Homo sapiens: one gene and its partners. The protein of the gene in region 1 interacts with the protein of each later gene in a pairwise test. Each region holds a gene or a part of one and is shown in the gene's direction. Other genes may lie near its edges. The genes, in order: TMEM229B, TMEM45B, NEMP1, ITGAM and VSIR.

The links.
Region 2: the proteins of TMEM229B (region 1) and TMEM45B interact in binary tests that used the Homo sapiens proteins (3 or more experiments, as listed by UniProt).
Region 3: the proteins of TMEM229B (region 1) and NEMP1 interact in binary tests that used the Homo sapiens proteins (3 or more experiments, as listed by UniProt).
Region 4: the proteins of TMEM229B (region 1) and ITGAM interact in binary tests that used the Homo sapiens proteins (3 or more experiments, as listed by UniProt).
Region 5: the proteins of TMEM229B (region 1) and VSIR interact in binary tests that used the Homo sapiens proteins (3 or more experiments, as listed by UniProt).

Annotation. Positions count from the first base shown.
Region 1 is NC_000014.9:67,473,867-67,480,053, reverse strand, and holds part of TMEM229B (transmembrane protein 229B), read left to right. Parts: intron 1-6,112; 5' UTR 6,113-6,116; coding exon of another isoform or gene 6,117-6,130; coding exon 6,131-6,187.
Region 2 is NC_000011.10:129,821,144-129,827,330, forward strand, and holds part of TMEM45B (transmembrane protein 45B), read left to right. Parts: intron 1-5,880; exon of another isoform or gene 5,881-5,971; intron 5,972-6,187.
Region 3 is NC_000012.12:57,057,405-57,063,415, reverse strand, and holds part of NEMP1 (nuclear envelope integral membrane protein 1 isoform a precursor), read left to right. Parts: intron 1-71; coding exon 72-297; intron 298-2,470; coding exon 2,471-2,644; intron 2,645-3,356; coding exon 3,357-3,537; 3' UTR 3,538-6,011. UniProt on the Homo sapiens protein: Together with EMD, contributes to nuclear envelope stiffness in germ cells. Required for female fertility. Essential for normal erythropoiesis. Required for efficient nuclear envelope opening and enucleation during the late stages of erythroblast maturation.
Region 4 is NC_000016.10:31,272,375-31,278,561, forward strand, and holds part of ITGAM (integrin alpha-M isoform 2 precursor), read left to right. Parts: intron 1-990; coding exon 991-1,144; intron 1,145-3,174; coding exon 3,175-3,325; intron 3,326-4,296; coding exon 4,297-4,370; intron 4,371-4,545; coding exon 4,546-4,675; intron 4,676-5,592; coding exon 5,593-5,735; intron 5,736-6,187.
Region 5 is NC_000010.11:71,760,021-71,763,520, reverse strand, and holds part of VSIR (V-type immunoglobulin domain-containing suppressor of T-cell activation precursor), read left to right. Parts: intron 1-1,494; coding exon 1,495-1,923; intron 1,924-2,596; coding exon 2,597-2,653; intron 2,654-3,500.

The DNA of each region.
Region 1 (6,187 bases):
CTTCCGTTATCCTCACTTTACCTACAAGGACCCTGAGGCACAGGGTGGTTGGGCAGCGTCCATTAGGTCTCACAGGTGGAAAGCATCAGCCAGGATTCCAACCCAGGCAGTTAGGATCATCTGGGGTCCCTGAACTTAACCAGCTGGCCATATTGAGACCTGTGAGGCATGGTTTGTTGTTGGATGACACAGGAGGGAAGAGCCTGCAATAATTTTACATGACTTCAGGTTTCTTTGGGTTCATTTGCTTAGCAAATTCATTGAACACCTTCTATACACGAGGTATGAATACGGTGAATACATATTCATTCCACAAGCATTTTTTTTTCCTTTTTTGAGACGGAGTCTCACTCTGTCACCTAGGCTAGAGTGCAGTGGCGCTATCTCGGCTCACGGCAACCTCCGCCTCCCAGGTTCAAGCGATTCTCCTGCCTCAGCCTCCCGAGTAGCTGGGATTACAGGTGCATGCCACCATGCCCGGCTAATTTTTGTATTTTTAGTAGGGATGTGGTTTCACCATGTTGGCCAGGCTGGTCTCGAACTCCTGACCTCAGGTGATCTACCCACCTCGGCCTCCCAAAGTACTGGGATTACAGGCATGAGCTACTGCACCCAGCTTCCACAAGCATTTTTTTTTTTTTTTGAGACAGAGTCTTGCTCTGTAGCCCAGGCTGGAGTGCAGTGGTACGATCTCGCTCACTGCTACCTCCACCTCCTGGGTCCCGGTTCAAGCAATTCTTCTGCCTCAGCCTCCCGAGTAGCTGGGATTACAGGCACACGCCACCACGCCCAGCTAATTTTTGTACTTTTAGTAGAGACAGGGTTTCACCATGTTGGCCAGGCTGGTCTTGAACTCCTGACCTCATGATCCACCCACCTCAGCCTCCCAAAGTGCTGGGTTTACAGGGTGAGCCACCACGTCCAGCCTCCATAAGCATTTTTAAGATGAAATTTTAGTTTTATAAAAGTTATACATGCTTGTTAGGAAAAAAAAGTATGCAGAAAAATATAAAGAAAAAAAGCACATATGATATCACCATCCAGAGATGATTGTTGTTTAATTTTTTTGTATATGTGCACATATGCATGCCTTTGCAGAATCGGAGTTAGGTTGAATATTCAGTTTTGAATCCTGCTTTTTTCTCTTACCACTATCTTAAACAAGCATTCCTCAGGAGGCTGCTGGTGCTGGCGTTCAGATGAATCCAGTGAAGCAGAGTGCTCACTATTACCACAGAGAAGGGAGGGTGCAGAAGTGGGAAGACAACTCTGGAGTCAGGGTGCTTAGGAAAGTCCTCACAGAGGAGGAGCTGGGTCTTAAAGGAGGGTTCACCGGCCCTGGGTGGGGCCCAGGTAGCAAAAACAGCAAGGTAGAGATCTGGAGGACAGGATTGGAGGCAGGGACGAGTTGTGAAGGGCTTTGCCAGCCGTCCCCAGGGGTTTGAGCTTTATTTACTCTGTAGATGTTGAAGATCCACTCATGGGCTTCAAGTGGTGAGAAACATCGGATTTGCATTTTAGAAAGGTTGCGTTTTTTCTACACACTCTTTCATCCTGTGATGAGTGAATTAGAAGGAAGAAGGCAAAGCTGGGAGACCTTTGGAGTCATCCAGGTGAGACATGATGAGGGCGTGAACCAGAGCAGTGGCAGCAATGAGAAGAGTAATGAAGAGGAGGGGATGGATCCCAAAGATATTTAAGAGGTGGTAAGGGTGGGAGTTAGTAGCTGACTTGGTGGCTTTCCCTTGGCCAGTGGGATGATGGTGGGCATGGCTTAGCCAGGGTCTTGAACCACACTTGTACAGCTAGCCTTGCTCAGCTTTGTGCCTCTGCCCTTGCCATGAGAAGAATATGCCCAGGCAAGTCCACTGGGCCCCGGAGGAGGATGAGAGACAGGTGGAGTGGAGCTACGCTGCCCCAGCCGTCTGCCAACCACAGACATGTGAGCTGTAATAGTAGACGGTAGTTGTTTTAGGCCAGGGTTTTTGAGATGATTTGTTATATGGCGATTGCTAACTAAGAAATGTCTTTATTCTTCTCTTGAATGCTTACTATGTGCTGGGCTTTGTGCCAGGCACTGGGAATACTATGCTGAACCAGGCAGGCAAGGCCCTCACTCTCAGGAACTCATGTTAGGGTGGGGATGTGGCAGAGGAAGCCAGACAGACTTTGAGACCGCTGGTTCTAACTGGGTGCATGGTGGTGCCATTAATTGGGGTGGGGGTCTTAGGAGAGAAACAGGTTTTGGGGAAAAGATAATGGGTTTGATTTTATTTATTTATTTTTTAGAGACAGAGTCTCACTGCATTGTCTAGGCTAGTCTTGAATTCAAGAGTTCTGGGCTCGAGCGATCCTTCTGCCTCTGCCTCCCAAAGTGCTAGGATTACAGGCATAAGCCACCACACCTGCCCATGGGTTTGATTTAGGAAAGGAGTTTGGGATGCCTGTGGGACATTAGGGGGAGCTGTCTAGGGAAGGGCAGGAGCTATAGGTGTAGCACACAGGAAAGAGGTCTGGCCGGGGACAGAAATTCTCAATATAATATTGAAAATAACCTGTAGCAAAGGGAGTGAGACAGAGTAAGTGCTGTAGAAATTCAGAAGAGGAAGAGAAGCCTTGGGACCTGGGGGAATGAAAGAGATTTTGTTCTGAAGGTAACCTGCAAGCTGGTTTATACTCATGGAAGTGAGAGGAGAAAGGCACGCCTAACAGAATGAATAGGACCTGCAAAGGCATGGAGATGAAAGACAGGAAGAGCTGGATTGTGAGGAAAAGGCTGAAGATGTCAATCGGGGCAAGGTCATGAAGAATCTTGAATGGCAGGCCAAGGATGCTGTTGTGTTTCATTAGGAAATAAGGAGATATCGAACATTTTTTTTTTTTTTTTGAGATGGAGTTTCGCTCTTGTTGTCCAGGCTGGAGTGCAATGGTGCGATCGCGACTCACTGCAACCTCCACCTCCCAGGTTCAAGCGGTTCTCCTGTCTCAGCCTCCTAAGTAGCTGGGATTATAGGCGCATGCCACCACATTTCAGCTGAAGCAGGCCTGGTCACATTAATACCTACCCATCCATTGTTTTTTTGTATTTTTAGTAGAGACAGGGTTTCATCATTTTGGTCAGGCTGGTCTTGAACTCCTGACCTCAGGTGATCTGCCCATCTCCGCCTCCCAAAGTGCTGGGATTACAGGCGTGAGCCACTGTGCCCAGCCACTATCGAGCATTTTTGAGCAGGGGAGAGACATTTGGTACGTATGTCTAAGAGATGGGCAGTCATGTGCAGGGGATGAGTTCTGCAGTAGAAAGCAAGAGATATTGGTTCTAATCTCAGCTCTTCCATTTACTGGCCCTGGGATATGGGGTAAATAATGTCCCCTCTCTGAGCTCTGTCTCACTGCAAAAAAATGGGAGTAAAATTTTCTGACCTTCACATGAATCTTTTTTATTTTATTTATAAATATATTTTTTGGAGAGGAAGTCTTGCTCTGTTGCCCAGGCTGGAGTGCAGTGGCATGATCTTGGCTCACTGCAACCTCCGCCTCCTGGGTTCAAGCAATTTTTCTGCCTCAGCCTCCCAAGTAGCTGAGACTACAGGTGCATGCCACCACACCCAGCTAATTTTTGTATTTTTAGTAGAGACAGGGTTTCACCATGTCGGCCAGGTTGTTCTCAAACTCCTGACCTCAGGTGATCCACCCGCCTCAGCCTCTCACAGTTCTGGGATTACAGGTGTGAGCCACTGCGCCCAGCCTGAATTTTAATTATGTAAGAACCATGACAAAATGCGAACGAAGTGCTTGGAAGACCACAGAGCAATGCACAAGGCTGGGTAGGTATTAATGTGACCAGGCCTGCTTCAGCTGAAATGTGAGGCTGGAATTCCCAGACAGGTGTGCATACTACAGATGCCATTTCCTTAACCTCTGTCTTTTCTCCCACCTTGGAGAGGGGATCGACAGAGATGTGAAGCCATTAGCAGCTGGCAGAGCTGGGATTTATGTTCTCAAGCCCTACCTTCCCATTCTTGATGCAGTCCCACACCTCCCTCCACATGAACAGGACATGTCATTTAGAGAGGGCCTGCCCAGGACGGGCCTGCGTCAAGGCCACAAAGCACTGGCCTGTGCAACAGTCACTATCCTCAAGGAGTTCACATGCTAGTTGGATCATGAGAGCACATACCTCAAAAAGCCATTGGGGTGGCACCTGATAATGGGCCAGGTAAGTGGTGCAGACAGTCGCTGGTGGAGGGTGAGGAGAAAGTAGAGAGAAGCAGCATGGGAGCCGGGCGTTGAAGACTGGTGGGGTTTAAAAGAGGGGAGGGGAAAGGAGCCAGAAGGACTGGGGAGGACTCTTTCCTGTGTCAATCCATTGGTTTCCCCTCAGCACTGAAACCAAACACCAAAACCCCATTTAATGGAGCAAAGACAAATGTGACCACAATGAGAGAACCACCTCACACCCATTAGGATGGCCATTATAAAAACAAAACAGAAAATAACAAGTGTTTGGGGTGGATGTGGAGAAATTGGAACCCTTGTACATTGCTGATGGGGAATGTAAAATGGTGTGGCCACTGTGGAAAACAGCACAGTGGTTCCTCAGAAAGTTAACCATAGAATTACCATATGATCCAGTATTTCCACTTCTGCATATGTACTTGAAAGAGTTGAGAGCAGGGACTCAGACAGACCTTTGTACACCCGTGTTCATAGCAGCCTTATTTTGAGTAGCCAAAAGGTAGAAGCAACCCAGGTGTCCATCAATGGATGAATGGATAAACAAAATATGGTGATATATACAATGGAATATGATTCCGCCTTTAAAAGGAAGGAAATTCTGGCTGGGCACAGTGGCTCACGCCTGTAATCCTAGCACTTTGGGAGGCCAAGGCGGGCGGATCACCTGAGCTCAGGGGCTTGTGACCAGCTTGGGCAACATGGTGAAACCTCGTCTCTACTAAAATTCAAAAATTAGCCGGGCATGATGGTGTGTGCCTGTAGTCCCAGCTACTCAGGAGTCTGAGACAGGAGAATCGCTTGAACCCAGGAGGCGGAGGTTGCAGTGAGCCAAGATTGCGCCACTGCACTCCAGCCTGGACGACAGAGCGAGACTCCGTCACAAAAAAAAAAAAAAAAAAAGAAGGAAATTCTGACATGTGCTGCAACATGGATGAACCTTAAAGACATTAGGCTAAGTGAAAGCTAAGCCAGTTATGCTAAGCCAGTCACAAAAGGACAGTGTTTGTATGATTCCACTTATATGAGGCACCCAGAGTAGTCAAATTCATAGAGACAGAAAATAGAATAGTGGTTGCCAGGGGCTGAGGGTATGGGGAATGGGAGTTTGTATTTAATGGATACAAAGTTTCTGTTTGGGACAATGAAAAAGTTCTGGAGATGGTTGGTGGTGACAGTTGCACAACAATGTGAATGTACTTAAGACCACTGAATTGTACACTTACACATGGTTAAAAAATGGCATGCACACACACAAGGACAAATGTGATGAGTCACTTACATCTCAGAAATATGAGTGACATGGAACTGTTTGAGAAGAAGTGGAGGAAGAAATGGGGTCCCCAGTGGATAGGCCTGCTGAGAAATCAGCAAGTAGTCTAGAAATGGGGCTGATTGGTGCAGCAGGCCAGCCGACTCTTCAACTGACCACAGATAATCCAAAAAAGCTCTAGGGAGTACAGACACCTCCCTCTAAGTAGCATTTGGGTAGAGTTGCAGAGAAGTCAGTGGGGTGGGTGGGTTATTCTGTTCTTTGCTCTGTTTTTTTTTTGTTTTGTTTTTTTGGAGACAGAGTCTCACTCTGTCTCCCAGGCTGGAGTGCAGTGGCGCAATCTTGGCTCACTCCAACCTCTGCCTTGCGGGTTCAAGCGATTCTTCTGCCTCAGCTTCCCAAGTAGCTGGGATTACAGGAGCGGGCCACCACGCCAGGCTAATTTTTGTATTTTTAGTAGAGACGGGGTTTCACCATGATGGCCAGGCTGGTTTGGAACTCCTGACCTCAAGTGATCCGCCGCCTCGGCCTCCCAAAGCGCAGGGATTATAGGCGTGAGCCACCGCGCCCGGCCCTCACCTGTCTCTCTTGCGCCCCCCGCAGCCAGCCCCAGTCGGCGCCATGGCGTCTGCCGAGCCCCTGACGGCGCTGTCCCGCTGGTACCTGTATGCCATCCAC
Region 2 (6,187 bases), on another chromosome or scaffold:
GACCAGTCTTTCCCCCAACCCCCTGGAATGGGGTGTAGGAGTTGCTACATTTTCTTTAGTTGTTTGAGAACTCATCACCAAGAAGTCATTTCCTGGAGCCAAGGAAACTCATGGGGGCCCTCTGAGTGCTGCTAATTGCATGGAGCTGTTGAGTGGGGAGGAAACGCCAGGCCGCCATCAAGAAGCATTTGGGGTAAATTTTCCAAGCACATCTGAAAAGACAGAGTCTAGAACCTCCACGGTCCCTGTCTGTTGTGATTTATTTTCTCATTCTAAATACACACACACTTTTTTTTTCTGTCTAGGCCATCTCTTGTGGAATACATATGTACTTTCATACCCAATTATGTACAGTTTTTGTAATTTTACGCCTTTTTCTTAAAGAAGGCTCCCAAAAGTGTATAAGATTCAGGCCCCATAAGATGCGGTTGCTTTTTGAGCTTGTGCCCATTTGAGATGTCACTTTTCTTCCTTCACACTTGCTTGCTGGTTTGGCTGGGTATGGGATATTAATCAGAAATCATTTCCCGTACGAATTTTGAAAACATTGCTCTATTTTATTCTACTTTCTTACGGTGCTGTTGAGAGGCTGATGCCATTCTAATTCCTGATCCCTTGTATTTTGTTCTAATCTCTGGGCATTTGTAGGGTTTTCTTTATTGTTCATATTCTGATATTTCATGATGTTGTTATTTAATGTTGGGGTGGGTTTTTTGGCGGGGTGGGGGGAATACAGGGAGGTATCCGTCACTGTCCTAAGTATTTTCTAGGCCTTTTCAATCCAAAAAGTACATTCTTCAGTTCTGAGTGGTTTTCTTCTGTTATATAATTTCCTCGTTCTTTCTTTCTGAAACTTAAATTACTTAGACTGAATCTGAAAATGGGATCTCTTGGATCTGTCTTGTAATTTTATCTTTTTTATTTTAAAAAATATCCCATGTTTTTTTAGTTCTAATAAATCTTCCAACAATGCTATTAAATGTTTACATTCTACCATTATATTTTTAATTCTCAGGAGCTTTTATTGGCGAGAGGTGTGGTCTTCTGAATGGTTTTTACAGTATCCTGTTCTCATTTCATGAACGCAGCATCTTCTCTTCTTTCTCCAAGCATATTAACTCAGTACTTTTTCTACATTTTAGAAGTTTTCTTCAGCTACCTACAATGTCTGTGTCTATTTTTAAAGTGACGTTTAATGTTGCTTTTGGCCTGCCTTTCACGTTGGAAGCTTTATACATGTTTGGGGATGGTGTGCGTCATCTGTGAGCATGGCTTGTAGGTTGGCTGGCTTCATTGCAGGGTGGTTAAGCAGAGAAGGCCTTTTTGATGGCTTATCATCATCTGTCTCTAGTGCTTTCTAGTACATATAATGGGTTTCTCTGTAGAAAGATCTCATTTCTAGCCATTTATTCCTGTTTGAGAAAAGTCACATAATAACTTAGATGTATTTATTATGTCATCTGCTTAATAGCGGAGGTTCTTGTTGTAAGGTGGACAGGTGGAGGTCTAGGATTCAAAATGGGAAATGTGTCCTTGACTCCGCCTGCACTTTGAAGTTGCTGATGTTCTCCATGTTTTATTTTCTATTGAAAAAGCTCTGAGATACTAGGGAATGAAAACTCTTTGACTACATGTACAACTAATTTACTTTTTGATAACCATTTGCAAAATATGGATTATATTGGGAAAACATTTTTCTTTTTTTTTTTTTTTTTGAGACAGAGTCTCACTCTGTGGCCCAGGCTGGAGTGCAGTGGCGCGATCTCAGCTCACTGCAAGCTCCGCCTCCCGAGTTCAAGCCATTCTCCTACCTCAGCCTCCTGAGTAGCTGGGATTACAGGCGCCCACCACCATGCCCAGCTAATTTTTGTATTTTTAGTAGAGACAGGGTTTCACCATGTTGGTCAGGCTGGTCTCGAACCCCTGACCTTGTGATCCACCCACCTCGGCCTCCCAAAGTGCTGGGATTACAGGCATGAGCCACCACACCCAGCCTGGGAAAATATTTTTCTAATATCTCTAGAATTTGGGACAGAATTTCTGTCCTTGAAGGTCACCCTCCAAATCCATGCAATTTTTCCCTTCTGCAGCCCCACAGTGATCATCAAAACTTGGAGCAGATTCATGTTTTTTATTTTTTTCCTGGGAAAGTTTTAGATCACGTGAAGGGAACAGATACTACGTTTGATAGGAATCGTTCCTGCTTTAGCTTCTTAAGGCCTCTCACTTGGAAAGCCTGCCCATTAGACCCTGATTTTTTGCTGTTAGCTTTTCCTTCTTAGGCGACTTCAACAAAGACTGCAAACTCCCTGACAGCACAGGCCCAGGCTTGTCACCCCTGCAACTCCATCTCCCAGAACAGTGCCTTATGCATAACAGGTACTTGATAAATGTTAGTTGACTTAAATTGACCCTATTATCTGTTTTAAACTAGCCCTTCCTACCTGTCCCCTTGCTATTTCCTCTGTTTCTGTTAAATCTTTTTATGTCACCACCTCTTGGATGATGCTACCTCATTCTCAAATCTGATGGTATGGAATAGCTATAAGAAAACAAACTTGAAAGATCTCTAACTACTAGGACTCTAAGTAGAATTTCCTGGATTGAAAACTCCCCATATCACCCTACTAAATATCTAATTATTTCTTAGGTTATCACCAACCACCCTGCATCGAGTCCCTCCTGAGCCACAGTTCAGTTTGGATTATTTTTTTCCTCATGTTCCATCCCTTGACTGTAGTGCCCTTCCCTTCCTTCCAGTGTCTTTGATCGGCCTGCACTTTGATCCAGAGCTTCTCTTTGATCTGTTCTAATGGTCATTTTTCTGCCTCCTCCCCTACATTGATCTACAATCTGGCATATTTTATACATTATACAAAGCTCATTGTTGTGCTCATTTCAGAATACCTACCTGTCAATCACACAGACATCTTTTCAAACCTAACTCAGACCCACAATGAAAGTCCCTCTCTTCTGGCCATTACTGAGATAGCTCCTGCTTCGGTCTCACTGGGGCTGTTTATTTCTCTATGGGAGGCTCTAGAACAGTAACTAAACTACAGTGCAAAACAGTGATCTATAGATTACTGTTTCTCAATCGTCAGCACTAACAATAGAGTCTAAACTCCCAGGGACCTGGAGACTTGTCTGAGAACAGCCTGGCATAAGTGCAGTCTCTCTTAATACTAAAAAATATATGCTACCCCACAATATGTCTGTATCTGTTTTAAAATGAAAATCATTTTTCCAGAATCTTTAGGTGAAATTGATACTCCAGGATTATGTTCGTCTTGTGATTTCAGATATCATCTGGGGGGAAAGGATTCACACATATGCCAGTCTGTGAGACACAGTAGTAGAAATCAAGGGACTTACCTAGCTCTAAGAATTGTATGAAAATAGTAACGGTACCAACAATTTTACCAATGGCTAGATTTAGGAGATGGTGTTCTCTTGATTCAAGATGAAGGCTAAGCTGCATCAGTTCAGTTCAGTTTAAGAACTATTATTATGTATCAAGCTTGTGCTAGTTTTTGATGGAGATGATAAGGTCTCCACTCTTGAAGATTCTGTAGACTAATGGGCAAGACATATGTCACTATATAATTTTAATATAACATGGTAAGTGATAAAAAATCATGGTATGTATGAGGTCCTTTGAAAACACAGAGGTGAGGCGCTTAGCCCAGCCTGGAGATTCACAGAGGCTTCCTGGAGGAAATAAGGCCTAAATATGGAAACCAAGTAAGAGGAATGAAAAGGACGTGCAATTTAGAGGGGACAACATGAGCAAAGGGGACACTGTCAGGTTCATGGTGGGGAGAATTGGGAGGTGACACTGGAGAGGAGCCACATTCAGGTATACCCAATGCAAGGGGACGTGGACCCCTCCACAGGCTGCTGGTTAGCCAATGGAACATTTTCCATCCTCCAGTAGTGTAGTCAGATGTACACGGAAGGTGGATGACTGGCTGCGGGGTGGAAGAAGAATTCATGGACAGCAGGACTAGAGGCCTCGCAGTGTTTAGGAAAAAGACAATGAGAGACCAAATGAGATCATTGCTGCAGGCACAGAAGGGAAAGAGAAAATACCAGGATACTTGGGGAAGCGAATTTAGCAGAATTTTGATGTCTTTGGGGGCAATGGTGAGGGGAGAAGAGAGTCCAGAATGACTCCCAAGATTCTGGCTTTCTGGGTGACTGGACATTAAGCCATTAACTAAGTTTGGGATATGAGAAGAGAAGCCGATTTGGTGGGGAAAGAAGATGGTGAGTTCAGTCTTGGAAATACTGACTTGAGGTGTCTAAGAAACATCTATACGTTTATGTGCATGTCTGTCTGTTCAGCAGGTTGTTGGATCTATGAGTCTGAGACTTAGAGACAAGGCCAGAGCTGGAGATGAAGTTGTGGGAGTCACCATTGTGCAAGTGGTGATTAATCCATGGGTGTGCGTGAGAGTTCTTGCAAGGGGAAGAGGAAACGGAAGTAAGGGCTTATGCAAGGAGGACTGTTGAGTAAAGTGGAAGGCCCAGCCTCTGCCTGCTCACTAATGTCAGTGCTGAACAAGCCCACTGGTAGTGGATGCTGAGGGAAGGAAGGAAGGAGTCTGTCTGTAAGCTTGAGCACTTTTTCCAAGAGGTGGAGAAGGCAGAGAGCCCAAGCCTTGAAGAAATGTTCCTTAGTGGCCTGGCATCTTGGAAATTTGACTCCATGACTTTGGAGAGATCTTTCCATTATTATTTTCCTTGAGCGCCCAGAAAGAGAATTCTGAACTAAATGTATTCTTTCCCATGGCTGAGTTAAGGATAGTGTTAATTACAGAAATATATGTAAGGTTTTTTTTGGTTTTTTTTTTTGGTTGTTTGAAAACTAAACCCACCTTTGAAGTCCAGAGATGTCCTTTCACTCTAATGTATGCTGAGGTGGCAACTGGTAACTGCTTCTTTGTAGGTAATAGCCATAGCCTTAGTTTCATCCTCCCTTCTCCATGACCAAAACTTGCTCCAACTTCTGCATTTCGTTTTTGTGATGTATTAATGAGGAGCAAAGACATAAAGGAATTTCAGAATTCAGAAGAGCCATGGAGAGTCCCTCTTCCAAACTCCCTATTTAACAAATAAAGAGGCCGGGCGCGGTGGCTCACGCCTGTAATCCCAGCACTTTGGGAGGCCGAGGCGGGCGGATCACGAGGTCAGGAGATCGAGACCATCCTGGCTAACACAGTGAAACCGTGTGCCTACTAAAAATACAAAAAATTAGCTGGGCGTGGTGGCGGGTGCCTGTAGTCCCAGCTAATCGGGAGGCTGAGGCAGGAGAATGGTGTGAACCCGGGAGGCAGAGCTTGCAGTGAGCCGAGATGGCGCCACTGCACTCCAGCCTGGGGGACACAGCAAGACTCTGTCACAAAAAAAAAAAAAAAAAAAAGGACCCTGAGAGGCTATGTGTCTTGCTCAAGGTCACAGAGTGAATTCCTAGCAGCATTCAGGCTAGGACCCAAGTATTCTGACTCAGTGGCCAGTGTTCTTGTTAGATAGTGAGAAAATAGAATTTAGTCCAATTTGTTTTTCTTTTTTTTTTTTTTGAGACGGAGTCTCGATCTGTCACCCAGGCTGGAATGCAGTGGCGCGATCTCGGCTCACTGCAAGCTCCACCTCCTGGGTTCACGCCATTCTCCTGCCTCAGCCTCCCGAGTAGCTGGGACTACAGGCACCCACCACCATGCCCGGCTAATTTTTTGTATTTTTAGTAGAGATGGGGTTTCACCGTGGTCTCGATTTCCTGACCTCGTGATCTGCTCGCCTCGACCTCCCAAAGTGTTGGGATTACAGGCGTGAGCCACCGTGCCCGGCCTCCAATTTATTTTTCATTCTCGAATTCAGGATCCAGCAAAACTGCCTAATTTTCATGACAGTTTGAAGAAAGGCCCAAATCAAATGCCTCCCGCTCTGTGAGGCCTGCCCAGTTTCTCAGGTGAGAGTTACCCACTTTGTGTGCTATGTGCTAGGACTGCTACCAGTACGTCCCAGGACAATCAGTCTTTCACAAGTATTGTCATGTGGTGCTTAACGACAGGGACATGTTCTGAGAAATGTGTCGTTAGGCGATTTTGTTGTGTGGACATCCTAGAGTGTACTTACACAAACCCAGATGGCATAGCCTACTACACATCTAGGCTATGCGGTGTAT
Region 3 (6,011 bases), on another chromosome or scaffold:
CTGCTTCCCACACAAATTATTTTTACCAAGTATAGATGAAAAAGAATGTCTTCTGATAACTCTTCTCATAGGTTATGTCCTCACAGTTGGATTCATGAGTTTTGCAGTATGTTACAAGTATGGGCCCTTGGAGAATGAACGAAGTATCAACCTGCTGACCTGGACCTTGCAGCTGATGGGCCTGTGTTTCATGTATTCTGGCATCCAGATACCACATATTGCCCTTGCCATTATCATCATTGCTCTTTGTACTAAGAACCTGGAACACCCTATTCAGTGGCTGTACATCACCTGCAGGTGACTGAAAGGCAATGTAACTTAATATTGACAGGTACATTGTGGGATGCAGTTGCAGCAAGAGGATACAGAGGTGTTGACCTGGGAGCTTCTTTGTTAATGAAAAGTCATTGTATTGTACTTCCACTTTTGTTCCTTCCCGAGTCTATTTTTTTTTTTTTACTTTCTATAGGAATTTTTATATTTTTATTCTAGTCATTTTATATAAAATGTCTAGTAAAATGTCATGTGTTCCTGTTACCACAAGGTGGTGCAAATTCTATCACTGTTTTTTTGAGATGGAGTCTCGCTCTGTCGCCCAGGCTGGAGTGCAGTGGCGTGATCTCGGCTCACTGCAACCTCCACCTCCCGGGTTCAAACGATTCTTCTGCCTCAGCCTCCTGAGTAGCTGGGATTACAGGCATGCGCCACCACATTCAGCTAATTTTTATATTTTTAGTAGGGTTCCCCATGTTGACCAGGCTGGTCTTGAACTCCTGACCTCAAATGTCAGGAGTTCATAAAGTGCTGAGGAGCTCCCAAAGTGCTTGGATTACAAAGTGCTGGGATTACAGACATGAGCCACTGCGCCCCGCCACAAATTGTATCGCTTTTATACCGTATGCTCATTGAGGTCTCCTGGGTTCAGATTTTTTTTTTGAGACAGAGTCTCTCTCTGTCACCCAGGCTGGAGCACAATGGCGTGATCTCGGCTCACTGCAGCCTCCACCTCCCGGGTTCAAGTGATTCTTCTGCCTCAGCCTCCCGAATAGTTGGGACTACGGGTGGGCGCCACTATGCCTGGCTAATTTTTGTATTTTTAATAGAGATGTGGTTTCACCATGTTGGCCAGGGTGGTCTCAAACTCCTGACCTCAGGTGATTTGCCCACCTCAGCCCCACAAAGTGCTAGGATTATAGGCGTGAGCCACCTCACCCAGCCCATTTCAGACTATTTCTCAGTGGCTTTCAGATTGCTCTGGAGGTCTTAGTCTTATTTTAAGATGTAATTCATAGCATGTTTTGTCACCTTGCATAATAAATATGGAATGTTACTAGGTCCTGAAGTTGTCTATTATAGATAGTCAAGGTGATGCTTTCAGTTTGGGAAACCAAGTTACTGGACCACAATCTTTTTTTTTTGAGATGGAGTCTTGCTCTGTCACCAGGCTGGAGTGCAGTGGTGCTATCTCAGCTCACCGCAACCTCTGCCTCCTGGGTTTAAGCGATTCTCCTGCCTCAGCCTCCTGAGTAGCTGGGGTTACAGGTACATGCCACCATGCCCAGCTAATTTTTGCATTTTTATAGTAGAGATGGCGTTTCACTATGTTGGCCAGGATAGTCTCAATCTTGACCTTGTGATCTGCCCACCTTGGCCTCCCAAAGTGCTGGGATTACAGGTGTGAGCCACCTTGCCCGGCGTTTTTTTTTGTTTTTTTTTTTTTTTGAGATGGAGTTTTGCTCTTGTTGCCCAGGCTGGAGTGCAATGGCATGATCTCGGCTCACTGCAACCTCCGCCTCCCTGGTTCAAGCGATTGTCCTGCCTCAGCCTCCCGAATAGCTGGGATTACAGGTATGCACCACCATGCCTGGCTAATTTTGTATTTTTAGTAGAGATGGGGTTCCTCTGTGTTGGTCAGGTTGATCTCCAACTCCTGACCTCAGGTGATCTGCCTGCCTTGGCCTCCCAAAGTGCTGGGATTATAGGCGTGAGCCACTGTGCCTGGCTAGAACCACAGTCTTATACCATGATTTTCTGTTATTTTCCCATCTACTAGAAAATAAGTAAGTATTTTATCATTTATTGGAAAATAAAGTGAGTTTGTTCACATTAGTGAATAATATTGACTATAATTTTTTACTTTCTATAGGCATTTTTATATTTTTATTCTAGTCATTTTATATAAAATAAAAAGGTCTAGTAAAATGTCATGTGTTCCTGTTACCACAAGGTGGTGCAAATTATATCACTTTTTTTTTGAGATGGAGTCTCGCTCTGTCGCCTATGAATTGTCACTCATAGTCTAATGTATCAGGAGTTCATTATAACTAAAGATGTCCATGGAATTTTTAGGAGTGATGACTCTTAATGTTCAGGCTGTCTGCTGTATTCTTGGCCCACTGAAGGGAGCTAGAAGTAAGGATGGATATAGATTACTGATTAATGATTCATAATGTTATTTTGGTGAGCACAGAAAGGTGTGTAAGGGAGCAGAAAAGCCTGTTCCCCCTCGTCTCCTGACAGAAGAAGAATATCGGATACAAGGAGAGGTAGAAACCCGAAAGGCTTTAGAGGAGCTCCGAGAATTTTGTAACAGTCCAGACTGCTCTGCTTGGAAGACTGTTTCTCGAATCCAGTCTCCAAAAAGGTAAACTCGGCCAGATATACCAAGCATCTATCAGGGTAATTGTGACCTTGAGTTCTACCAGAGATCATACTTCTAGAGAATCGTGCACTTGTGACCTTTGTTTTCCTGTTAATCTTCAAGTAGTCAAGAGAAGGGTGGATATATAATCACACATTAAGCAGTAACCTGTTTCCTCAGGGAACTATCTACTCTAGCTTTGATTGTAGCATTAAGATGGGAAGACTCCAGTACCATATTAAGTTTCCCTTCTGAAAGTTTTGCATTGCTGTCTGAGTTGGTAGGGTTCCCCCCTACCCACTTTTTAGTTGGGGGCAAATGTACCAATGAGTATGTGAAGCTTCAATTTGGAATCATGATGGCATAAAGTTTACAGGGCCATAAACGTGAATAACTGTAATGCCCCTTAATCTTCTCTTATCAGGATTACAGATGACTAAAGGAACCTTGGCACTTTCATAATTAGAAAGGATAGGCAAGTGCTTATTAAGCAGGATGGAGTTGCAGGGGTATTAGCCTATGATCCCAGCTTTCCTTTTCTCCTTAACTTCATGCTTTAGTCTACTTACCTGCCAGAGTAAGGACAAGGATGTTGGCTAGACTTAATATAATTTGAGTTGCGAGCATATCGAGGGCTTTAATTTGTTCTTATTTTGAAAGAAGACCAGAAAGGACAGAAGGATATTTCTAACGAGTATTATCTTCTCTTTTCCAGATTTGCTGACTTTGTGGAAGGCTCTTCCCACCTCACGCCAAATGAAGTTTCTGTCCATGAGCAGGAGTATGGATTAGGGAGCATTATTGCCCAGGATGAAATCTATGAGGAAGCATCCTCTGAGGAGGAGGACTCATATTCTCGGTGTCCTGCTATCACACAGAACAACTTTCTAACCTAGGTAGTGGTCAGTTATCTTTACGTGGACTGGCTTGGTGCCTTGGTCCATGTTGCATGTGTTGTGCAATTGCTTTCAACCCTTTGAAACAGAGTGAGATAGATAGGGTAGAAATTCTCCTACTGAAATAAGAGGCCTAAAAAGGCCTCCCTTTGGAAATGGGAGGTCTCTATGGGATCCCTGAGGAAGGAGAGTGGATAAAGTAGTGAATGCTGGGTAGTTCACTTCCCATTGGTTAAGCTAACAGCCCACTTTTATGTTTCCAGAGAAATTGGATGGCCACAGCTAGCATGGCATTCTAGCTCCTTCTTGAAAGTTGATTCAATCATGGCATTTCTGTCACTGGCTGGCTCTCCAAAGTAAGAACTGTTGTTAAGTGCAGGAATGCTTTTAGACTATAGGCTGCAACTTCCAGAGAGAAATCCACAAATCTGAGCCTCCTTCACTCCAGCTTTTATTTCAGTGACTTTAGAATAATTATTGATTTAACTGTTTTGGGAGGAAAATAGATTTTTATTGTTTTGTTTTTTAAATGAATGTCTTTTAAAAAACATAACAAACTCATGTTCCAGAACCAGCAAGTGCTCCAGAGTGACACACCCCCTAGGCCCCTACATATTTATTAATATGGATTATCCATTAAAGCCCCAGGAGCTGTTGTTTTAAGCTTTGATTTAGTTCTCATACATATGATAGAAAGTCCTATTTGCCTTTAGGAACATGCCTGTAGGCTCTTCTGCAGGTGAGATGTACTGGGCTTTTTATTATATTCAACTTTCAATTCCATCTTAAAAAACATTTGTATTCTTCTCTTCCCATTCTTCCTTACCCTGCCTTTGCCCTTTCAGGAAGGGTCAGTTCCCTTACCTGTGAACTATGTATGTTCAGAGTAGCATTATTCCTGCTAGCTAGGAGAAGTCATCTTGTTTAGGGGATTTGGATGCTTTTTATACGTTCTCCATTTTCCTGTCATTGGGTCATGTTATCTTTGAGTTGCTATGAAATCAGGAAACTGTCTCCTTTTCCTTTCCCTTCCTTTGTCTACATGCTCTGTCCATTCCTTTCAGCCTTTTCTCACCACCCATACTCCCCCAAATCTGGGTAATTTTTAAGCCTTGAAACTATGTAGTTTCTTGATACACAATTTGTAGTTATGCAGCAGCCACAATTTGCATTGCCAGGAAATAGGCTCCAGGTTATCTTCATGCCTCTGGGTGCTCATTCAGCTGTCAAGTTTCCATGAACTTACACTTATTTATGATTGCGTTTCTGACCTGAGATGTATGCTGCCTGTTATTGCAGTAGCATTAGTTTCAGATTCTTTTGCCATTGCAAAGTACCCCTTATAAACCAGCAATGTCATCTGTGAGGAAGCAAATTCTCAAGTGTCTGTCATTTACTTGGTTCTTTTTCTTTGTGGTCTTCACCCTTATACCCTGGAAAAGTCTGTAATTACCTTAGCCAGGAAGATAGATGGTCATGGCAAGCGCACAGCACCAGACTTACTGGCTCACCAAGATGATGGAAAAAGGCAGATGATTTTTTAAAAAGCCGTAATGACTCCTTTAGACCAGCCATTTAGCGTGGTAATTTTGAAAGGCCTAGCTCCATTGCAGACTTCCAAAGGGTCAGCTCTGAGACTGCCCTCCAGGTGGGCAGTTGATTATTTCCACCAGTGTTTTCCAGAGCCTTAAACTGTCCTAAGTGACAACTACCTCAGTTGGCAGGAAAGAGACATATAGTAGAAAGTGAAAAATGAGCAGTATTTGGGCAGATGCTATGGGTTACAGTTGAAGGGTAAAAGGAACTTTACATTGGGAAACCTTTATACCCTTGTGAATTATGTACATGGTAAAATGTTCTCTCTCTACAAAGAACTATTAAAACTTCTGAAATATACTATTTTTTACCTTATTTATAGAAATTGAGACCTAGCATATTTAAGCATAAGTTTATTTTAAAAAATAATTCAACTCGTGCAAGTGGTCTCAGGATTCTCTGGAGATTTTGGTGCCTCCCCTACTTAGGGAGGTGATAGCTTGCCTATAAGGGTGACTTTTCCTGATCATGTCTTTATTTCAATGAGAAAGCACTGTGAAATTGTGAAAGATTCTCCTCTTTCTCTGTTTAATAAACCCCCATGAAATATAGTTTCCATCTCTAGACCAGTTTTTTTTCCACCGTGTTTAGACTTGAGGTGAATAAAATCAAACTGTTTTTTACTCCCTATCTGGTAGTTGGAGACCTGAGCTGTAGGCAGTGGAGATGGCAATTGGTTCTGCAGCCTGAGAGTTGCTCTCACACAGTGAAGGACGGTGCTGCTCTGGTGTGCTGTGTGTCCTTGCCCTGCCTGCCTGTGGCTCTGCCCAGATGCTTCAGATCCTCTGTGTTCCGGAGATTGCTTGACTTCAACCTTCTTTAGGAGCTGCTCTTGTCTCCCTCTTGGCCACTTAGTTTGCTGGCTCAGTCACTACTTG
Region 4 (6,187 bases), on another chromosome or scaffold:
GGGGAGCTGGTGCAGTGCTCTGGGAGAGGTTTCCTGAAGGCCAATTAACTATATATATATATATATATATATATATATATATATATATATTTTTTTTTTTTTTTTTTTTTTTTTTTTTTTTTTTTTTGAGACAGAGTCTCACTCTGTCACCCAGGCTGGAATGCAGTGGCCTGATCTCGGCTCACTGCAACCTCCACCTCCTGGGTTCAAGCAATTCTCCTGCCTCAGCCTCCTGAGTAGCTGGGATTACATGCGTCCATCACCACCATCAGCTAATTTTTGTATTTTTAGTAGAGACAGGGTTTCACCATGTTGACCAGGCTGGTCTTGAACTCCTGACCTCAGGTGATTCACCTGACTTGGCTTCCCATAGTGCTGGGATTACAAGTGTCAGCCATAAATATATATATTTTTAAAATTCAAAAGTAATAATACTCAGTTAAAAAACCCAAATTATGCGAAAGTATAAAAACAAAAACCGTGAAGGCTTCCTTTCCCTTCCCTGCTGCTTTTCCAGGTCTCGGGGCAGTTGCATCTCAGTGCTAAGTCTCAGGGGAGACGGAGCCCCTCCGAGACCTCGCCTAGCTGTATCTGTGTCTGGGACTCTGCTGACATTTCCTTTCTGACGTTAATAGCATCTCTGGCTAGGTGCAGGGTCTCATACCAGTAATGTCAGCACTTTAGGAGGCCGAGGTGGGAGGATCACTTGAGGCCAGGAGTTTGAGACCAATTGACAACATAGTGAGACTCTATCTCTAAAAAGATAAAAAAATAAACCAAGTGTGGTGGTACATGCCTGTAGTCCCAGGTACTCAGGAGGCTGAGGCAGGAGAATCACTTGAGCCCAGGAGTTCAAGTCTGCAGTGAGCTATGATTGTGTCTCTGCACTCCAGCCTGGATAACAGAGTGAGTGTCTATTTCTTAAAAAAAAAAAAAAACTAGTGTGTCATCTACTTGCATTTGACTTTGTCCCTCCTGTTTCCTGCACAGACGAGAGCTGTTTAACATCACCAACGGAGCCCGAAAGAATGCCTTTAAGATCCTAGTTGTCATCACGGATGGAGAAAAGTTTGGCGATCCCTTGGGATATGAGGATGTCATCCCTGAGGCAGACAGAGAGGGAGTCATTCGCTACGTCATTGGGGTAGGGAATGCAGCTCTCAGGTTGATGCTTCTGTGGAGGGTTTCTATGTGGATCCATCCTCCCTTCAATTTGCAAATATTATTAAAATCAAAGTGACATGAGAGCTAATGCTAGCTCATATACACCGTATCAGCTATCTGTTGCCACATCAATGCTGTGTAATAAACTATCCCAAAATTCAGCAGCTTAAAATAATAAGTAAGCCTGTGGGTCAGCCTGCCAAGAGTTCTGGTCTCAATGGCCTTCCTCACTGTCATTAGCTACAGGTTGGCAGGCTGCTCTGCTGATCTTGGCCAGGCTCTCTCTGTTTCTGAGGGTTGCCAGCTATGTCATCTGCTGGACCAGATGGCCTTGGGTGGAACCACTGGGGTGACTTGGCCCTTTGGCAACCTGGCTCTCATTCTCCAGGGCTAGCCTGGGCATGTCCTCATGGTGAAGGCAGGGGAGCAAGAGAACAGTGGAGATGTTGCAAGTGCTTTTTTACGCCTCTGCATCATGTTTGATAACATCCATGGGTGTCACGAGCAGTGCAAGGTTAGCGATAACCAGGTCCATGCAGGTTTGTGTTTTTCCACAACATCTTTCGCTGATGCTATTTCAATCACAAACGCCACAAGCTGCATGGAATTCCCAAGGAGGCAGTTCTTCTTAGTGCATCCTGTTCCCTCAGACACTCTGGCTCAAGCCACCCACAAGTCAGTCAATATTGCAAACCATATATAATAGTATACTTAATCAATATATAAGTTATAGGTTAAACATTCCACAGCAAACAAAGTAACATTTAACATCAGAAGAAAAAGAAAGAGGAGAAAGGATGAATGAAAAGGACTCCTGGTCTGGGCCCAAGGGTCCTGGTCCTGTTAGTCTTGCAAGGCAGAGTCTTTGATACGGCAGAGCCCTCGGCAGCAAATGCCAGGCTCTCATCATGAGCGACTGCGAGGTGTGAGTTCCAACAGCTGCTTTGAGCTGCTGAAGGCCTGATCTCTTCTAGTCACAGAGCTGTCTGGTGAGAACAGACAGAGAAGAATGTGCTTGTTTGCATCCTTATCTGGTTGGATGTAGTCTTTATTTGTTTATTTTATTTATTTATATTTATTTATTTATTTATTTTGAGACTGAGTCTTGCTCTATCGCTCAGGCTGGAGTGCAGTGGCATGATCTTGGCTCACTGCAACCTCCACCTCCTGGGTTCAAGCAGTTCTTGTGCCTCAGCCTCCTGAGTAGCTGGGACTACAGGCATGCACCACCATGCCTGGCTAATTTTTGTTTTGTATTGTTAGTAGAGATGGGGTTTCACCATGTTGGCCAGGTTGGTCTTGAACTCCTGATCTCAAGTGATCTGCCCGCCTTGGCCTTCCAAAGTGTGGGATTATAGGCATGAGCCACTGCACCTGGCCTATTTAAAAAATTTGTTTAAAACGACCTTATCCTTGTTGGCAAAGTGCCCTGTGAAATATAGAATGGAGCCTTTTTCTAAGATGGAGTCAGTTATGTCAAGGGTGCTCTGTATACAATGGGCTAAAGCAAGACTCATGTCTGAGCCCAGAGGCAATGAAGGGGGCAGATGACTCCACCAAGAGCAGGAGGGCACAGCAGAGTGCTGGGGGAAAGGGCTTGGATACAGGAAGAGGCAAGGAGTCAGGATCATCAGTGTAATCAAACTACTACAGCACCTGCATGACACAGAAAGCGATATCACCATGGATACATGCCTTGGCACGTAGGACATACCTTCATATAAAGAAAAAGGCTCCCCTTCCTCTAGGGGGAGGTCAGCTCCATACCAGGAGACGTGGCACAGCAGATGGATCAGCAGCCGGGTTTCTGCCCCAACTTGCTTCCTTGGCACAGTGCCTTGTGCAGTGTACAACCTGCCCAACTATACCTGGCAACCCTGTCCCAGGGACCTTCTGATGCATTTCCTCACTTGATAAATAATGGTTCAGACTAGTTTCCTGCAGAATTGTCTTTGCCAGATGATATTGCTAGCCTCACACCATGATTTAGCCTCTGTTCCTTGGTAACAGGTGGGAGATGCCTTCCGCAGTGAGAAATCCCGCCAAGAGCTTAATACCATCGCATCCAAGCCGCCTCGTGATCACGTGTTCCAGGTGAATAACTTTGAGGCTCTGAAGACCATTCAGAACCAGCTTCGGGAGAAGATCTTTGCGATCGAGGGTGAGTCAGGCATCTGTGTTCCCAGAGCAGCTCCAGAGGCAGCCCCCCACCCCAGAACATAGTCCCCTCTAGAATCCAGACCTTCCTAACCCTTGGTATCCCCCAGCATCAACTCTCTCCACTTCCTACAGCTCCCAGTCCCAGCCTCACTTGGTCAATTCCTTTGAAGTCAAAGAATCCATACTTTTATCTGTAATTTTGCAAATCTTGGCTATAGGCTGGTAAATTGGAGTATGGGGGAGTCAAATCCCACCCAGTATTTTAACAAAAATTTGGATGTGTTGCCAGCTGTCGTCTGTTCGGTTCTCTGTTGTATCCCAATTGCCTAGAATAGTGCCTGGTACTCAGAAGGTGCTCAATAAATGTTTGTTGAATAAAAGGAATTTAGAAATTGGGGGATTTCATAAACAGTCTGGGTTTATGGCTTATCTTGAAAAGCTGGAAGATTAGACACCTTGAAGACCGCATTCCCACTTGGCAGGATGTTGCTGGAGGTGAATGGCTGCCATCCTTCTAAGAGGGACGTATGCTGTCCAGCTTGACACAGATCCTGTCGGAGTCTCCTTTGTCTGTGGCCACCAGAGCACTTGGGTTTTCAGTACCTGTTCTAGGTTCTTCTGCTTTCTTTTCTTTTCTTTCTATTTTTTTTTGAGACTGAGTCTTGCTCTATTGCCCAGGCTGGAGTGCAGTGGTGCGATCTTGGCTCACTGCAACCTCTGCCTCCCAGGTTCAAGTGATTCTCCTGCCTCAGCCTCCTGAGTAGCTGGGATTACAGGCGCATACCACCACGCCCAGCTAATTTTTGTATTTTTAGTAGAGACGGGGTTTCACCATGTTCACCAGACTGGTCTCTAACTCCTGACCTCAAGTGATCTGCCCATCTCAGGCTCTCAAAATGTTGGGATTACAGGCGTGAGCCACCATGCCCGGCCTTCTGCTTTCTTTAATATAGAAACTTCTCCTCTTTACAGGTACTCAGACAGGAAGTAGCAGCTCCTTTGAGCATGAGATGTCTCAGGAAGGCTTCAGCGCTGCCATCACCTCTGTAAGTGGCCCTTCATTAAATTGCGGGGGTGGGGCAGGGGGTAGCAAGAAGAGATAGGAGAGATGTGGGGGTTTGGGGACTCTTCTCTGTGATAGATACTTGGGAAGTAGCTCTGTGAGGGGCAGCGGTTGTCCCTTCTTCCTTCCTCATCAACCCTGTTCTACACCTTTCCCAGAATGGCCCCTTGCTGAGCACTGTGGGGAGCTATGACTGGGCTGGTGGAGTCTTTCTATATACATCAAAGGAGAAAAGCACCTTCATCAACATGACCAGAGTGGATTCAGACATGAATGATGCTTACTTGGGTAAGTGGGGAGGGCAAGGGTTACTCTAAGAAGGGGTGAGGATTTGGCATAAGTCAACTAGCATAGATGTCTGGGTCTTGAATGAATGGGATACATATGTATGGGATACTAGCTATTAGTCTCTTGGGATAGCTTTAAAGACAGAAACTTCAATTTTTTTTTTTGAGGTGGAGTTTCTTTCTTGTCGCCCGGGCTGTAGTGCAATGGCACTCGGCTCACTACAACCTCTGCCTCCTGCGCTCAAGCGATTCTCCTACCTCAGTCTCCTGAGTAGCTGGTATTACAAGAATGCACCACCACCCCTGGCTAATTTTTTTTTTTTTTTCGAAATGGGGTTTCGCTCTTGTTGCCCAGGCTGGAGTGCAATGGCGTGATCTTGGCTCACCACAACCTCCGCCTCCCAGGTTCAAGCGATTCTCCTGCCTTAGCCTCCTGAGTAGCTGGAATTACAGGCATGTGCCACCATGCCCAGCTAATTTTGTATTTTTAGTAGAGATGGGATTTCTCCATGTCGGTCAGGCTGGTCGCGAACTCCCAACCTCAGGTGATCCACCTGCCTCGGCCTCCCAAAGTGCTGGAATTACAGACGTGAGCCACCGTGCCTGGTCTTTTTTTGTATTTTCAGTAGAGACCGGGTTTCACCATGTTGGCCAGGCTCGTCTGGAACTCCTGACCTCAGGTGATCCGCCTGTCTCGGACTCCCAAAGTGCTGGGATTATAGGTGTGAGCCACCGCACCCGGCCAGAAACTTCTAAATTGAATTGTAATTATGTTCATAAAGAGAAATATAGCGTAGGGATCAGTTACCCCAACACAGCAAGCGTGGGGCTGCCCCAGTGCCCCTACTCAAGGGGTGGGTCTGCATGGTGGAGGAGGGGGCAGGGAATGCACTTCACCTCTCAGACCCCCACCTTCAGGTTATGCTGCCGCCATCATCTTACGGAACCGGGTGCAAAGCCTGGTTCTGGGGGCACCTCGATATCAGCACATCGGCCTGGTAGCGATGTTCAGGCAGAACACTGGCATGTGGGAGTCCAACGCTAATGTCAAGGGCACCCAGGTGAGTGCGGTTTGTGGAGCATGAATGTGCAAACAGAGGCGCCCTGGGGTCTTAGAGATTCCAGGAGGGGCATTCAGATGACATGCATGGCCCTCTTGTAAAGGAGGCTTTGGGGGCTGTGAGCTGGGGAGTTGTGGGATCAGCTTAGCATTTGTGAATGCTGTGTCCTCAGCTTTTTTAACAATGATAAATAACAATGCTTGCCTGTACAGAGCTCTCTATGGGTCTTTCTGTACTCAGGGCTGGTATTCAACCCGTATATAACCAGGATAGCCATGTTAGTTAATAAAATATTGAAACAATTCCGTATTCATTGATAAATGGTGGATTCCCCCTCACCCATGCACTCTGGTGCTTCCCCAGTCTCTGTGGGCTTCCCCATGATCCAGCAACTATGAGGTCAGGCAGGACACTTCACACACCCTCTAGGATCTGCTCCAGCCATGCCCCTG
Region 5 (3,500 bases), on another chromosome or scaffold:
GGGTCCCAGCCTGCCGCCGAGGGTCCTGGGCTCTAAGGGCAGGGAAGGGGCATCTGAAGGAGGATGTGGCATTATATTGGTTCTGGGCAATGCCCCTGGCTGGGGCAATGAAAAGGATGTATCAGTTTGGATTCTGTACATAGTTCTAACCCTCCTTCCCTCTCTGCTAGACCCACAACAGCCTGACATGCCATTTAAAATAAAAATACCACTGGCCGGGCGTAGTGGGTCACACTTGTAATCCCAAGACTTTGAGAGGCCAAGGCAGGAGAATTGCTTGAAGCCAGGAGTTCAAGGTCAGCCTGGGCAACAGAGGGAGACTCCGTCTCAAAAACAAATAAATAAATAAAAATAACACCAACGCATAATAATTATAGCTATCCCTCAGATGTCTGCAGAGGGCATTAGAGCTCACATCTTGTGTTCTCATCTTTCCCTCATCTAGTCCTTTTGCAACCCTGCATTGTAGCCAATAGTTTTCTCACTGCACAGAGGAGGAAACTGAGGCTCATACAGTTAGATAGAAACGCGGCCTCTATCCAATATTCTGTTTTCAAAAGCTCATGGTTTTGAGGGTCAACCCAATTAAATGCTGGAGGATTGGGATAAGGCAAAGTGGACCAGGGAATTGCTTCATTTGCTTGGTGAAAAAAACCAAACAGAACTAGACAGTTTTCTAAGTTTGGCTGGAAGGACGTGCATGGATGAGATGACCTTTCATATACTCTCTGTCCCGGTCCCTCAGACACTGGGTTTTCCCATTTTCACACTATCTTGCCTAGGACACCCTTTCTACTGGCTGAAATCCTATCTATGCACCAAGTCCAAAGACTCTCCCTCCTTCAGGAAGTCCCTGACTGTCCCCAGAAGGCTGTTTCCTCCCTCCTCCAAGTGCCCTGAGGGCTGGCATTGGATTGCCTTTGCCATGGGGTTCTGCTGTCGGGAATGCAGGCCTCGTCTGCTCAAGGGGAGGCCATGCATTCAGCATGCAGGTGAGATGCAGCACCTGGCCCAGGCCTTGCACACGCAGGTGCTCTCTTAGTGCTCCCTGGCAAGGATGGGAAGGCATGTTCAGTCCTAGGAGTAGGAAGGGGCAGAGGTGTTGATGGCCCCTACAGAGCGGCCAAGGACAAGGAGCTGCTGTTCGAAACAGCCTTCCTGCTCCCCAACCTGCCTCCCACCCAACAGGTTTTGCATATACTCTACTGGGAAGAGGGACACACCCGACTGCATCACTGCCCTCCAAGTCTCTCCCTGCCCTGTCCAGCATCCAGGAGCACCCCTAGTTGGGGAAGCTTCTGTGACTCCCCCTACAACAGCCTAGGATGGAGTGGGGTTTGTGAACAAATGCAGAAGGCAGTCTTAGGGAGGTCAGCTGACATGCCCCTGGCCTGTGGCTGGGAAGTAGCAGAGGCTAAGGTTCTTCCCCGCTCTGGGGTTGCCAGGAGTAGCACTGGATCAGTCAGGTGACAGGGCTCTCCTCTCTCTGAGCAGGTCCGGTGGCAGCCTTCAAGGTCGCCACGCCGTATTCCCTGTATGTCTGTCCCGAGGGGCAGAACGTCACCCTCACCTGCAGGCTCTTGGGCCCTGTGGACAAAGGGCACGATGTGACCTTCTACAAGACGTGGTACCGCAGCTCGAGGGGCGAGGTGCAGACCTGCTCAGAGCGCCGGCCCATCCGCAACCTCACGTTCCAGGACCTTCACCTGCACCATGGAGGCCACCAGGCTGCCAACACCAGCCACGACCTGGCTCAGCGCCACGGGCTGGAGTCGGCCTCCGACCACCATGGCAACTTCTCCATCACCATGCGCAACCTGACCCTGCTGGATAGCGGCCTCTACTGCTGCCTGGTGGTGGAGATCAGGCACCACCACTCGGAGCACAGGGTCCATGGTGCCATGGAGCTGCAGGTGCAGACAGGTGAGGGCATCCTGCACGTGACAGCCTGGCGTGTGTGGAGGGCTGCCTGTCTGATGGTGTGACCATTCATGACACTGTGCTGGGCAGAGTGTGAGGCTGCATGGGTAACACTGGCACTCCAGGGAGTGTGTGGGTGAGATGGGGTGGTCAAGGGTGTGTGGAGTGTGGGTTTGTAGTTAGCTGGAGTGATGGAGAGGGAGGGTGTACCTGGCTCCATTTGTGACAGTGAGACTTTTTAATGTGTGAGGCTGTAGGTACCTGGGCTGGGAGTGTGACTGCTCATGATGACATCATGGCTGCTGTGGGTATAGGCATCAGTGGGACTGATTGGTGCCCTGGGGCATGACTCAGTGGATGGCTGAATGGCTGTTGGAGAATATATGCGTGTGTGTGTCTGTCTGTTCAGGTGAGAGTGCAAGGGCCCATGGTTCGGATAGAGGTGTGGGCACCAGCGGGTATTCACATGCCCCTGGGAGTGGCATGAAAATGGGCAGGGTGAGAACATGCCAGGGTGTGTGTGGGTGCACACGTGTGCAGGCTGCCACTGGGCCAACACTGCCGAGTAGGCACTAGCGTGAGAACCTGGGGCAGGAGGGGGACACTGGCCTGGACAAGCCTCCCTGGCCTCCTGGGCCTGACACCCACCTAATGGCCCTTCTGTTTGTTCCCACAGGCAAAGATGCACCATCCAACTGTGTGGTGTACCCATCCTCCTCCCAGGATAGTGAAAGTAAGGGACCAACCTCTTGCCCCTTTTGGGTTCTCTGTTTTCTTCTGTCCTCATCCTGCACCCAGACCCTGTTTGGAACTCTGGCCTCATCACCCCAAGCCCTCAGAACCCCCCGGTCCTCCTCCTTTTCTGCTGCTGCACATCCCTTCTGCTTCCTCCTTGGTGCAATCCCCAGAAGCCCACTCTCCTTCCATCTGCTCTGGAGTCTCTGCTCCTCTTGACTCTCTGGAGTGGCTGTGCCTTGGCAGTGACCTTTGGCCAGGGCAAGTGCCTCATGACAGGTACTGGGTGCCCCAGGCAGCTAAGTGCCGCCCTGCCCACCAGCCCCCTATGGCTTGGGAAGGCTGGGGGTCCTCTTGGCCTAGAATTAAACTACTTCAGATTTCTGTGTTCTGTGTTTCTATGTTCTTCAGATGTTCTCTGTTGCAGGGGAGGGAGGAGGAAGAGGTTCAGGAAGGGGAACAGAACTACCTTTCCTGAGTTCCCACTGTGCTGGGCACTGGACTAAGTCTTTTTAAGTATTATTATCTCAGGGATATATATATATATATATGTGTGTGTATATACATATATATACACATATATACATACATATATATGTATATACATATATATACATACATATATATGTATATACATATATATACACATATATACACACATATATATGTATATACATATATATACACACATATATATGTATATACATATATATACACACATATATATGTATATACATATATATACACACATATATGTATGTATGTGTGTGTGTATATGTGTGTGTATATATATGTGTGTGTGTATATATATGTGTGTGTGTATATATGTGTGTGTGTGTATATAT